Homo sapiens: one gene and its partners. The protein of the gene in region 4 purifies or fractionates together with the protein of the main gene of each other region. This does not show direct contact. Each region holds a gene or a part of one and is shown on either strand. Other genes may lie near its edges.

Evidence for each region. Proteins that work in one complex are often made in the same cells at the same time.
Region 1: the proteins of SLC35A3 (region 4) and JPH1 purify together in Homo sapiens (affinity purification with mass spectrometry; one large-scale study listed by BioGRID and IntAct). This does not show direct contact.
Region 2: the proteins of SLC35A3 (region 4) and TRPM4 purify together in Homo sapiens (affinity purification with mass spectrometry; one large-scale study listed by BioGRID and IntAct). This does not show direct contact.
Region 3: the proteins of SLC35A3 (region 4) and LRP11 purify together in Homo sapiens (affinity purification with mass spectrometry; one large-scale study listed by BioGRID and IntAct). This does not show direct contact.

What each region holds. Positions count from the first base shown.
Region 1 is NC_000008.11:74,238,041-74,241,540, forward strand, and holds part of JPH1 (junctophilin-1), read right to left. Parts: intron 1-3,500. UniProt on the Homo sapiens protein: Junctophilins contribute to the formation of junctional membrane complexes (JMCs) which link the plasma membrane with the endoplasmic or sarcoplasmic reticulum in excitable cells.
Region 2 is NC_000019.10:49,160,792-49,164,291, reverse strand, and holds part of TRPM4 (transient receptor potential cation channel subfamily M member 4), read right to left. Parts: intron 1-3,500. UniProt on the Homo sapiens protein: Calcium-activated selective cation channel that mediates membrane depolarization. While it is activated by increase in intracellular Ca(2+), it is impermeable to it.
Region 3 is NC_000006.12:149,854,360-149,857,859, forward strand, and holds part of LRP11 (low-density lipoprotein receptor-related protein 11 isoform 1 precursor), read right to left. Parts: intron 1-3,500.
Region 4 is NC_000001.11:100,032,496-100,035,995, forward strand, and holds the end of SLC35A3 (UDP-N-acetylglucosamine transporter), read left to right. Parts: 3' UTR 1-3,139; downstream 3,140-3,500. UniProt on the Homo sapiens protein: Transports diphosphate-N-acetylglucosamine (UDP-GlcNAc) from the cytosol into the lumen of the Golgi apparatus, functioning as an antiporter that exchanges UDP-N-acetyl-alpha-D-glucosamine for UMP.

The sequences.
Region 1 (3,500 bases), on a different chromosome or scaffold from region 4:
TAACCCATCTTTTCAGATCTGCTCCATGAAGAAGCCACCTTTATTACAAAGACATGATTGTGGTATTTACTGTTAAAATAATGTCTAATTCTTATATAGCATTAAAAGTATTCTAAACTGGCTTTATGAGGTAGGTAGTTTTATTGTCCTCATTTTACAGAAGAGGAAACAGTGGTACTCCATTTGGATACTGGGTAAGACTACACTGAAACAATGTTACAGAGGCCTCAAAAGTATTGATGTTTTTTGGGTGTGGGGTAAGTGAATAATGGAGATTGGAGCTGTCATTGGTCAAACACTAATCAATTCGGGTCTAGGGTTTGGGTCACACATCATTGACTCAAGAAGGTCTCTTTCCCTGACTGAGCCCACATCTCCGTGGTAGAGGTCAGAGTGCCCTGCTCTTTCTCTATCACAAGGCGTTTCACACTTGATTATCCTTTGTTGTTTAACTGCTATTTTCCCCCACAAGACTCTGAGCTCCACAGTGGCAGGGGCCTTGTCTTATTCACTGCTATGTACCCAGTGCACAGACACGTGACATTGCCCAATTCATTCAGGCAACCAATATTTAATGAGACTCTACTATCTTCCAGCACATTTCCAAGTGCCGTGGATGTGGGTTGTTTTGTTTTGAGACAGGCTCTTGCTCTGTCACCCAGACTGGAATGCAGTGGTGTGATCTCAGCTCATCGCAGCCTTGACCTCCCAGGTTCAAGCTATCCTACCACTTCAGCTTCCTGAGTAGCTGAGACCAACAGTGCGTGCTATCAAACCTGGTTAATTTTTGTATTTTTTGTAGAGATGAGGTCTCACTATGTTGCCCAGGCTGGTCTCAACTTCCTGGCCTTAAGCGATCCTGCCACCTTGGCCTCCCAAAGTGCTGGGATTCCAGGCGTGTACCACAGTGCCTGACCCAAATGTGGGTTGTTAAACGAAATGGATTAAATCACTGAATTAAATGAAGAACAAACAGGGTGATGAGTAAAATGGGGGAGGGAGAGGAAGTAAACATGAGTCCCCTTTAAGTGGGGACTATTAGGCAGAAGAAAAGCATCAGTTCCTAAACCCCAAGTAAATGGGAGGAAAATAAACATTTTTTGCAGGTTTTTATAATGCTGGGCAGTGGGTTAAACATCTCTGAGATTTTTTTTTTTGTTTATTCTTCACAAGTGATTATTAGTTCCATTTTACAGAGCTTAAGAGGACAGGTGTCTTGCTCAAGTTTCCTCAGCCAGTTTGAACAAATTGGAACTCGAATTAAGCTTTAGTCTGGTCACTTCAGAGCTCCATGCTCTTTTCTCTATATGTCTATTAAAGATACAGGCCTTAGTTTAAAGGCAATTTCCCATTCAGTCCTTTAAAATGACATTTTCCTCTATATCCTATAATTTCCACAGTATCAGAAAAACATCAAATTGTGATAACGACCAACTGCTCTTTTAGAATAGTTGTAATTCTAAATTGATAGGAGAGTCCTAACCTGTGCAACTCCTCAATTATGGTTAATTTAGAGCATAGAAATAATGCAGAAAACTCTTATAACTCAGAAAATAGTGGAGACGATCTTTCAATGTCACAACTGAGCACAGAGATTAAGGAAATATTATTACAGGCTAAGCATCCCTTATCTGAAACACTTGGGACCCTAAGTGTTTGGGGTTTCAGATTTTCTTCTGATGTACAGGTTGAGCATCCCGAATACAAAATTCTAAAATGCTGCAATGAGAATTTCCTTTGAGCATCATGTTGGTGCTCTAAAAGTTTCAGATTCTGGAGATTTAAAAAATTTTTAATTTTTGTGGGTAACATGGTATATATGTGATATTTTGATACCAGCATAGAATGTGTAATAATCACATCAGGGTAATGAGGTATCCAACACCTAAAGCATTTATTCTTTGTGTTCCAAACAATCCAATTATACTCTTTTAGTTATTTTATTTTTTGAGGTGGAGTCTTGCTCTGTCACCCAGGCTGGAGTGCAGTGGCGCGATCTTGGCTCACCGTAACCTCTGCCTCCTGGCTTCAAGTGATTCTCCTGCCTCAGCCTCCCGAGTAGCTGGGACTACAGGTGTTCACTACGATGCCCAGCTAACTTTTATATTTTTGGTAGAGACGGGGTTTCACCATGTTGGCCAGGCTGGTCCTGAACTCCTGACCTCAAGTGATCCATCCGCCTCAGCCTCCCAAAGTGTTGGGATTACAGGTGTGGGCTACCGTGCCCAGTTCTCTTTTAGTTATTTTAAAAGGTACAATTAAATTATTATTAACTACAGTCACCCTGTTGTGCTATCAAATACTAGATCTTATTTGTTCTATTTTTTTTTTTGTATCCATTAAACATCCCCTCTTCTCCCCTACGTCTTCACTTTCCATCCAGCCTCTGGTAACCATCCTTCTACTCTCCATCTCCATGAGTGTGATCGCTTTAATTTTTAGCTCCCACAAATAAATGAGAACATGCAAAGTTTGTCTTTCTGTGCCTGGCTTCTTTCACTTCACATCATGACCAGATGTTGGAGCATTCTGGATGTTCCACCTGTACTACTACACACTTAGATTAGATTTTGTTCATGAGTGTTTTAAGAATTTTGGATCATTTCAACTATTCTGGGCTACTGGGTTTATTTTATAATTTTCAAAGGTAATTTAGTGATATGAAAGGTGAGGAAAAATACACCTGGTCAGAACAATACAACATAGACTTTGGTGTCTTACAGTGGACCCAGGAAAGTGAAATAGCAGAGAACGTGCCTTCCATGAAGCCAACTTCTAAAGTCCAAGGTGTGCCTGAACCTTAACTCCCATTTCATAAATCCATATAAGATTCTGTGAATTTATCTAACCCCTTTGAATTAGTGAGTATTTTGAATTTGTATATTCTTTTGGTTTGAATTTAGATTACTATCTTTTCTCTAGTTTTTAGCCCACATATCACTGTACTGGCAATCCAGATTCAATGAATAGTGAATGAGTGCTTTATCCAAAATGAAAAATACATACATATATATTTTTTTCTTTTGCACGCATACACACACACACATATTTCTCCTGTATATGTTCTAATATACACACACATATATATTTATCCTACCAGGGTGGCTCCACTTAGAAAGCTATTTTTAAAGGTGACTCAGTGAAGATGAGGGAAAACTAGACATGAAAGCTTCAAACAGCAACCAGGGGAAAAATAAAAATCCGGGATGCTCTGTTCAGTGGCAGATACCAAGCCCTGGCCTCTGTGTTCTTTATATACCTAGGCACAGGATATGGGGTGAAAAGCTTTAAGGTAAAGTCTCATAAATACGACTGTGGTGGCCAGTTGTAGCTTAAAATAGCAAAATGAAAAAAAAATCTGTCTTGCTTTTCAAGACTGACTGGGACAGGTGTAATACAAGAAGCTGTAGCAGGGCACAGGGTAAGTCTTGATTGGAAGAAATTTTCCAGGTGGTAAGAAAATAAAAAACAGGAAATCAAAATACAGAAAGAAATCCTAA
Region 2 (3,500 bases), on a different chromosome or scaffold from region 4:
GGGAGGGAGGGAGGGAAAGAGAGAGAAAGAAAGAGAAAGAGAGAAAGAAAGAAAGAGAGAGAGAAAAGAAAAGAAAAGAAAGAGAAAGGAAGAAAGAAGGAGAAAAATGTATCTAAATTCTTTGTTCCAGATTCCAGGAGTTCAGATATCAGGGGAGACCTGTATTTACACAAACCTAGTGAGCAGATTTAAGAGCAATTTTACAGAAGGGATAGCAGAGGTGCTACAAGGATTTGGCAAAAGCCGTAAAGACACTAAAAGAACGGCTAACTGATCCACACATGGGATGAACCAAACACACTTAGGCCAGGTCCTGGCACAGTGAGAACTACAATAAAGTGTCTTCTTCATTCCTGAGTCTACCTCCAGGGCCCTGGCATGCCTCAGTTTACCGACTTTGTCCGTTCACCCATTTCAGCTCCATCCTTGAATCCCCTAGTTCCCCTGCAGCTACTTCCAACACCTGCAGCTACTTCCCAGAAAGTTTGCTCTTCTGAGCAAAACTTCAAGGACGGCTGGGCACAATCCAAGCACTTTGGGAGGTCAAGGCAGAAGGACTGCTTGAGCCCAGGAGTTTGAGAACAGCCTGGGCAATAGAGCGAGACCCCATCCCTACAAAAAAAATTGTTTTAATTAGCCAGGTGTGGTGGTGCACGCCTGTGGTTCCAGCTACTCAGGAGGCTGTAGCAGGAGGATCACTTGAGCTCAGGAGTTCAAGGCTGCAATAAGCCATGATCACACCACTGCAGTTCAGGCTAGGCAACAGAGCAAGACCATGTCACTAAAAATAAGAAATAAGGCCGGGCATGGTGGCTCATGACTGTAATCCCAGCACTTTGGGAGGCCAAGGCGGGCGGATCATGAGGTCAGGAGTTCGAGACCAGCCTGGCCAACATAGTGAAACCTTATCTCTACTAAAAATACAAAAATTAGCCGGGCATGGTGGTACGCGCCTGTAGTCCCAGCTACTCAGGAGGCTGAGGCAGGAGAATCACTTGAACCTGGGAGACGGAGGTTGTGATGAGCAGAGATTGTGCCACTGCACTCCAGCCTGGGCAACAGAATGAGACTCTGCCTCAAAAAAAAAAAAAAATAATAATAATAAAATAAAAGCTCTTCACGGAATAGTCTGGAGCTTGTACTGTCCAATGTGATAGCTGCATGGGTTCTTTGTAGCCATGGAGCTCTTTCTGTTCTAATAAGTTAAAATTAAATCAAATAAAAAATTCAGGTCAAGTGCAGTGGTTCATGCCTGTAATCCCAGAACTTAGGGAGGCCAAGGTGGGCGGATCACCTGAGGTCAGGACTTTGAGACCAGCCTGGCCAACATGGTGAAACCCTGTTTCTACTAAAAATACAAAAATCAGCTTGGCATGGTGGCGGGTGCCTGTAGTCCCAGCTACTCGGGAGGCTGAGGCAGGAGAATGGCATGAACCCGGGAGGCGGAGGTTGCAGTGAGCCAAGATTGCACCACTGCACTCCAGCCTGGGCGACAGAGCGAGACTCCACCTCAAAAAAAAATTCAGTTTCTCAGGTACAATGGCCATATTCCAAGTGCCCAGTAGCCCCCTGTGGCCAGGACTGCCATATTGGATGTAGACATAGAACGTTTCCAAAATCGTGGAAAATTCTGACATTCAGTGCTAGGAGCCATTCCTTCTGCACAGCTTGCCTCCTACACTCTTTCCTCGGTGGAGCCACAGAAACTGAAATAAATTGTTTTTTTGTTTGTTTGTTTGTTTTGTTTTGTTTTGAGATGGAGTCTCGCTCTGTCTCCCAGGCTAGAATGCAGTGGTACGATCTCAGCTCACTGCAACCTCTGCCACCTGGGCTCAAGCGACTCTCGTGCCTCAGCATCCTGAGTAGCTGGGATTACAGGCATGTGCCACAGTACCTGGCTAGTTTTTGTATTTTTAGTAGAGATGGGGTTTTACCACATTGGCCAGGCTGGTCTCAAACTCCTGACCTCAAGTGATCAGCCCACCTCGGCCTCTCAAACTGCTGGGATTACAGCTGTGAGTCACTGTGCCTGGCCTGAAATTGTTCTTGATAAAAATCATCAATTTCCTGCCTGGCTCCATATACAACGGCCCTTATTCAGGTTTCATCTGACTGTATCACAAGTGGCCCTGGCTACAGCTGAAAGGCTCTCATTCTGGAAACCCTCTCCTTGGCAGGATACCCCTGCCCCTCTGGCCTTCCTCCCCGCCCCGGCTGCTTCATGCCTGACTTGTTTGTGGCTTTCTCTTGCTTTTCACCTCCCTTGAGTGTAGGTGTTCCCAGTGCAAGCCTTCCCTACATGATTCTCAAACCCAATGTGTGCAGAGGCCAGTCAAGTAACTCAACAGAAAGAAGTAGCCAGGGCCAGGAGCAGTGGCTCACACCTGTAATCCCAGCACGTTGGGAGGCCCAGGTGGGCAGATCACTTGAGGTCAGGAGTTCGAGATCAGCCTGGCCAACATGGTGAAACCTTGTCTCTACTAAAAGTACAAAAATTAGCCAGGCGTGATGGTGGGTGCCTGTAATCCCAGCTACTCGGGGGGCTGAGGCAGGAGAATCGCTTGAACCCAGGAGGCAGAGGTTGAAGTGAGCCGAGATCGCACTACTGCACTCCAGCCTGGGTGATAGAGCGAGACTCCGTCTCAAAAAAAAAAAAGAGGTAGCCGGGTATGGTGGCTCTCGCCTGTAATTCCAGCACTTTGGCAGGCAGAGTGAGGTGGGAGGCTCACTTGAGTCCAGGAGTTGGATACCAGCCTGGTCTGGTATCAAAGGGAGACCCGGTTTCTACAAAAAATTTTAAAATTAGCCAGGCATGGTGGTGCATGCCTGTGGTCCCAGCTACTCCGGAGGCTCATGTGGGAGGATCGCTTGAGCCCAGCAGGTCAAGGCTGCAGTGAACCATGATCGTGCCACTCCAGCCTGGACAACAGAGCAAGACCCTGTCTCAAAAAAAAAAAAAAAAAAAAAAGAGAGAGAGACAGAAGACAGATATTTTTAAATGCTCTTCTAAACACACACACACACAAACACACGCACACAATTGGCTATAGAATTGCCAGTTTGCAACTCCCCTGACTTTACACGTTGTTTTCCCTGTGACGTCTTACCTACTTCCAGTTTCAATTACCAGCTACAACTCGGACCTCTCAGATTCTGGACATTAGTCCAGACCTTTCCCAATCTCAGTCCCCACATGCCCCTCGGTCCCCCTAGGCCGCTCATATGCACAGATTCCCACATTGCACTCAGCGACATTTCCCAAACCTGCTTGCCCTCCTGAGCTCTCCATCTCAGGGACAGCCCCACTGTGTCCCAGTCAGCAGAGCATACGTCCCGGAGCCATCCACCGATGGCGGCACCCCCTCTCTCCCTCATCACCCTCATCAAGCCCCAAGCTCTGCCTTCCTGCCCCCTGAGTCTTTGCCCCATGCCCTCCTCTCTGTGTCCCGAAAGCCCTGACCTGGCTCAGGCCACTACCCCTCCCGCTCAGACGCTCTCTA
Region 3 (3,500 bases), on a different chromosome or scaffold from region 4:
GCCTCCCAAAGTGCTGGAATTACAAGTGTGAGCCACTGCACCCAGCCTATATTTACCTTTAACCTAGAATGGTACTAAATAATATAAGGTTAATTATGTTTATTTCAATATTAATACTTTACTGACAGCTGCTACAGGGATGACCGAAAGGATAAGCTGTACAAAGAAAACATTTCTAAGAGCATAGTTACCAAAATTTTAATTGATGTAAGCTTCTTAGTAAATTCACCCAAATGCACACATATTTTAAAGAAACAGCAACAGAACTGGAAAAACTCTACAGGTTTGTGTACCACGCCCTCTTTGGCATCCACTTCCCCATTCCTTCAGTGCCAAAGCTCTGGTTCGAGTGCTGGCTGGGCTTGCCCCTCTTTGGCTCACCCTGCACAGTGCTGCAAGGCACCGCCTCTCCTCCTGCTTTCGAGCCCATCACTTTCCTCCACAGGGGCCAATGTTGCTACCTACACAAACTTCTAAAGGGCCAAGCCACACATCCCAGTGCTTGAGTTTCGGGGCTTACTGCAATCCCACCTCAGTGTCTCATTACGGAACAAAAGGTGACCACTCTTGATACATTGCAGCTGAAATGACTCTTCTGGAAAGCTAATCTGACGGGGTCATTCTGCGAGTAGGAAAAACCCTTCAGCAAGTTACCATTGCCTTTCAGATGTTTAGGACCTAACCCTCCAGGATTCTCTTCTCTTCTAGTGGTTCCCTCAATGCCCAGCACCAGGGTGTGGCAACAGGTTGTCATCAGCAACCAGAGCAGCCAGTTTCCACTAACCCTTTCCTGTAATTCTGATGAATGCATAAGTTAAACATTCAAGCTGGAGAAACTGGTGCCTGAGTACAAGGCCTGGAATGTGAAAACAAATACATTAAGACCTCGCCTGGACTTTCTCAGACCCTAACATCTGATCGAAGGCATTCTTACACATATACCTTGTATCAAGGCCACTTAAGATTAAAGAAAATTTTCCAAGGCTCTAGAGACTTTCCAGACCCCAGACCCTAAAGATTAGACTGAATGAAACACTCCTGCTTGTAGGTGCACACTCTCACACAGGCATAGAGGTTGAATTGAATGTAAATAAACACTGAAGAAAAACTTGTAACTTTGAGTTGGTCTGGTGAGTCACTCCCACCATCTTCCTGTCACCAGTTGCAGAAATAAACTCCCTTCTTTCCCAGTCTGTCTGCATCTCATTGGAAAGCGAGAAAAAGCAGCCGGACCTTGATCATCCAGGAACAAGGGGATTTATGTGAGGGGTCTGGGGCTCTTAGAGATGCGGCTTTTCTGAATGAGAATGCTGCTGCCAGCCACAAAGGGAAGATGCCTTTTTTTTTTTTTTTAAAAAAAAAACACATTATGAGGAATTAAGCACAATTGCTTTTTACATGCTATTGCTAACTATGGAGAAGACGTGTCCCATTTTTCCAGTCACTTAAGAGTGAGGACTAGTAACTGTGATTTAAATAAGCCAAGTAAACAATCCCCTGCCTAGGAAGAAACTTGTTCTTCTGCCTTTTTCCACCTCTGAACAAACACGGAGTGTCTGATGTCTTTATGCTGCTTCTGCCAGGTAAGGAGAGATAGGACACTTGCATTATTTTGATAGTCCTTTCATAGTGTTGACCTTTTCTTTGGTTCTGAAAGGTTCATTGTTTCCACACAATGGTTTATGACTTTATAATTCTGGAAAGCATCTTATAACTCAGCAGTTATACATTACAGCTAGCAGCTATTTAAACTTTGTTAAAAATACATTTTTAAGTAGACAAATGAAAATATGTCTATGTGATATAAACAGTAATGGACACATAATTTTTTAAAAACTCTCAAAGATTTAAGATGGAAGAATCAGATAAGCGCTGAAATATTCCACACATTATACAATTAATTAATCCTACCTCTCCTGGAAGAAAAAGATCATTTTAGTCACTTACTTTTATTTAGGTGAGCTTTAAGATGAATTATAAGCTTAGTGAAATCATCCTATCTTCTAAACTGATCACTGATGTGTCTGAAATAACACAGATAATGTTTCCTTTTCAGTTCAAGTCCAGGCCATTTCCATTGTAAAATGTATTTTAAAATAACCCAGAGCTTATCTACCCAGAAACAGTCCTTAAAATAAACAAATAACAACACGAAGAGGAAGGGAGTGTGCCATTTTAAAATGTGTGACTTGCTAATGAAGAACAAAATATATGTAATTTTGAATTTTTGTCAAAAAAATGTAATAAACCCATGTTAAGTACTAGGGAAACACTGGTTTCTTTTGAAAACTAAACACACTTAGTAAGACCTACAGAGGTGAAATAAGACTCCTGCCGATTGAGAATGAGCAAATCAAGGTGGCATTTTATTCAGAGAAGTGTAATATAATATCAACCAGCCTCATTCACAACACGCTACTGTGCACAGAGCCTCCATGACAAGGAAGACATTCTGTGCTGTGTGGGAACGAATGGTATAGCTCAGGCAGAGCAACTGGAAAGAACCCTGAAGTCAGGGTACGGAAGCGGGGCGAGACTAGGGGAAGAGGCTCAGATACATGCGGTCAAAATCCATCATGGATTTCCAACTGCAACACTTCGGAAAAAAAATTATCCGCAACCCCAATATGATTATTGTGATTTTTGGTATGTACTGATCCAGTCCTTCTCCCTATGGTGCTGCTGATAATAATTATAATAGTTGCCATTTACTGAGGGATTTTGAAGCTGACTTTGCAAAAATTATAGCTGAGAAAATTATAACAGTGAAATAGATCTGACCTGACTCCATGTGGCTTCTAATCTCCAAGCTGTCCTTGTCCATTCCTGGGCATAGGCCGAACTAATTTTGGGAGGAACTTGGTTTACAGTCTGACTTTGAAACAGACGCGGCCGGGTGTGGTGATTCATGCTTGTAATCCCAGCACTTTGGGAGGCTGAGGTGGGCAGACTGCTTGAGCCCAGGAGTTCCAGACCAGCCTGGAACTGGTGAAACCCCATCTCTACTAAAAATACAGAAAGTAGCCTGATGTGTGGCACATGCCTATAGTCCCAGTTACTTGGGGGGCTGAGGAATTCAAAGCTACGGTGAGCCAAGACTGTGCCACTTCACTCCTGCCTGCATAACAAAGTGAGTCCCTGTGTCAAAAAAAAAAAAAAAAGTAAAAAGAAACAAAGATGGTAACAGCCCTTTCCCCAAATAAGCCCCTTTCTTGCCTGAGGACTGGACTGCCTTTGCAAAACTAACAAATAAGCCACAAGATTAGAAATTATGGCTTAGGCATCACTATTATAAAACCTAAGTTCAGTGCTTGAGATATTTTATAGACCCTGTCCTCGATGGTTGGCAGCACCCCGTTGGCAGTACCTAGGTTGATAAACTGGCTCATCTGGTCTTGTGTTTTATCCGCACAACCAGTTCCTTGTGAATTAAACTCTTTCTCTATTGCAATTCCCCTGTCTTGATAAATCAGCTCTGTGTAGGCAGTGGGCAAGGAGAA
Region 4 (3,500 bases):
GATGCTCATATATATTGTGAGCCTCTAGCCCATGTAAGTCACAGCAAGCTAGCTCTTGGGTTTTTTTTGAGATGGAGTTTCACTCTGTCACCCAAGCTGGAGTGCAGTGGCACGATCTCGGCTCACTGCAACCTCCACCCTCCGGGTTCAAATGATTCTCCTTCCTCAGCCTCCTGAGTAGCTGGGACTATAGGTGCCTGCCACCGCGCCTGGCTAATTTTTTGTATTTTTAGTAGAGATGGGGTTTCACCATCTTGGCCAGGCTGGTCTTGAACTCCTGACCTCGTGATCCACCCGCCTCGGCCTCCCAAAGTGCTGGGATTACAGGCATGAGCCACCGCGCCCGGCCACTCTTGTGTTTTTTAAACATGACCACATTAGTCTTTTAGTCCTTATTTGCTTTAGGCACAAGAAATCTGAGGCTTACCTTATATTTGTCTTGTTCCAAATTTGGATTATCAGCTAATTCTCCAAGGAGCCCTATACCTTTTAAGGGGAGTGGGATTTATTTAATTTTTTCTTTGGAGTCCTTCTAGCCAGTGAATGGAATTTATTATAGAATCCATTGTTACTGAGCTGTCATTGTTTCTAGGCCATTTTAGTGGACATAGCTAGGAAATACAATTTTAAAAGATCATGAATTCAAATTAATATTTACAACTAAAATTTAGCAACATGGCCAGGTGCAGTGGCTCATCCCTGTAATTCCAGCACTTTGGGAGTCTGAGGTGGGAGGATCACTTAAGGCCAGGGGTTCAAGACCAGCCTGGGCAACAGAGTGAGATCCTGTCTCTACAAAAAAAAAAAAAAAGATAAATTTTTTCGAAAAGTTTTATATGAAAAGTGTACTCTGAAAAAATCTAGCTGTCATACCTATCCCTCCATTCCTAACCATCTCTTATAAGTAATTATTATCCATCTCTTATAAGTAATTATTATAAGTATTTTCTTAGTTTTCCAATTTATCTTTCATGTGTTTCTTTTTAAAAAGCAAACAAATATGCATATTGCTGTACTTACTGTGCCTCTTTCACAACATGGGGTCTTTATAAAATTTCTTTGGATGTTTAGAAAGGTTTGTATGCTCTAATTTATACTGATAACATTTTATATAATGCATTTAGAGTCCCCAATTTGCTTGTCTAGGCCTCTACTATTTAATTTGACACCTTTAAATGATGTTCTTTGACTCTTATCTAATTGTCTATGTGACCGTCAGTGAATATATTATCTGTTCATATTTTCTGTAGTCTTATTTCTTTTTGATTAGAACATATAATATTTACACACTATTTTCCCATCCTAATCCCCACCTTTGTAATAAAATTAATTAAAATTTTAAAAAAGTATATTTAATAACCTACTGATACTTACCTGAAGTCTCTCTGGTCAACTTTTGGCTGGATGAAGCTCTTCTGTAGAGTATTCAAGGAGGGCTTGTAAGTACTGTACAATATTCTCTGAGTTGTGACATGTTTAAAATTTCTTCTGGAGCCTAGATACTTAAAGTACACCTTGGCCATGTAGAAAATCCTTGACAAACATTTCCTTTTCTTGAGTTTGTCTGAATTTGTGCTTCACTGTTGGGTTGCTTGATGTTATCATCAAGAAGTGTGGCACCACTTGATTTTTTTCCCTTTTGGAAATGACATTTTGTTTGTTGTTTTTTACCTAGAGACCCAGATAATTTTTTCTATATTATTTTATCTATGATCCTTTTTATCTCATTTTTGTTCTCATAGCTGTTTTATTCCTCTTCTCTGTATTTCTTACTTTACTTTTATTTGTGTCTCTCAGGTACCCTGTGATTTAGTTTTCATTTTTAGATGATTTTATCTTTTCAGTATATTGCCTATGTTTGTTCAACTCTCATTTTACATCTTACTATTGAGTTTAAAAATTTTTATTTGCTGTGTTCTTTTATATGTGCAATTAATGATATTCATGTTGGAGTGTTGTATATTATTTGCCTCTGCTTCATATTGTCTAGAGGGTAGTATTTTCTATTGATTGAAAAGTTTTCATTTTCTGTTTTTTATAATAGCCTTGTATGGATTTTTGGTGGCTTTTCTATTCATGATTAAATGTGTAGGATCTTCTTCAATCAGCAATAACAGGTGGCTCTATAGAATGGAGGGTAGAAGGGATGTGGGTGACTTACTCAGTTTTTAGTTAAAGAGGACCCTCTTCTGTTAGCATGGTGAAGTGCAGTTTCTTTAATAAATTGTGCATGGTGGGGGTGGGATTTGGATTCTGTGATACAATCTTGTTTCTTTAGGAATCTTTTACTTTTGGCCACTTGCCTTTCTTTCCAAGGAATCCCACTCCCTTTCAAGGTGCCTCATGAACTGTTTTCATGAACTTTCCAAACATTGGTTTCTGCTTGTTTCTAAGCCTGATTCTTGGCCTTCTCATTAATTTTCAAAACTTCCAATATCCTTCCAAATAATTCCCTTTTGCTTACGTTAGCGAGTACTAGTTTGTTAGCCAGTGTTAGTTTCTGTTGATCCTAACCAAAAAACCCTAACTGAGATATCAGTCTCTTAGCGCAAAGTTTGTGAATACGGTCATCCCTCCATATGAGGAGGGGAGTGGGAATTGGTTGTGGGACTTCCGTGGATATCCAAATCAGTGGATGCTAAAGTCCCTTACATAAAATGGCATAGTATTTGGTTATCATCCTCCCCATACATCATCTCTAGATTATTTATAGTACTTAATACAATGTAATGCTGTGTAGTCATACTGTATTTTTTACTTGTATTTTTGTTGTTTTGTGGGATTTAAAAAATATTTTTATTCTGAGGATAGTTGAATCCACAGGATACTGAGGGCCAGCTGTATTCACAACCCAAATCACATACAAAGCGACAAGTTCATACACAATAGGCCTATTAGAACAGGACTGTTCTCTCTTGTTTATCATTGCAGCCTTTCTAGCACAAAGCCTGGGACATTCTGGACATTTAGTATGTGTTAAATTTCTCTTACTACATTATTTCCAACAGTATTTACTGCAATCTGCAATTACCTTCCTTTTGTTTTGTAACTGTGTCCCCCACTAGAATGTAAGCTCTGTGCAGATAGTGTCTCATTTATTGATGTATCCCTGGCATCTAATAAAACACTGACAACACAAGCACCCAGTAAATATTTTTTGAATGACTGAACAATAACCAGTTCATAAGGCTGATAAAATTGGTATAGCTAGATGAAGTATGATTTTGAGGGACTATGAAAATCAAAGTAACCACACAATAAATTATCAGCCCTCTACTTCCATTCAAAACAAGCTCCTGGGAATTGAATTATGAAATCTATCATATTACTTTCTCTAAAGAACTTCAAGTTGGGTGTCAACTAAAAAGTTGCAGGCGAGGCGCGGTGGCTCAAACCTGTAATCCCAGCACTTTGGTAGAACTGAGTATCTCTTGAGGCCAGGTTTGAAACCAGCCTGGTCAACATAACCAGACTCTGTCTTTACAAAAGAAAAATTAAAA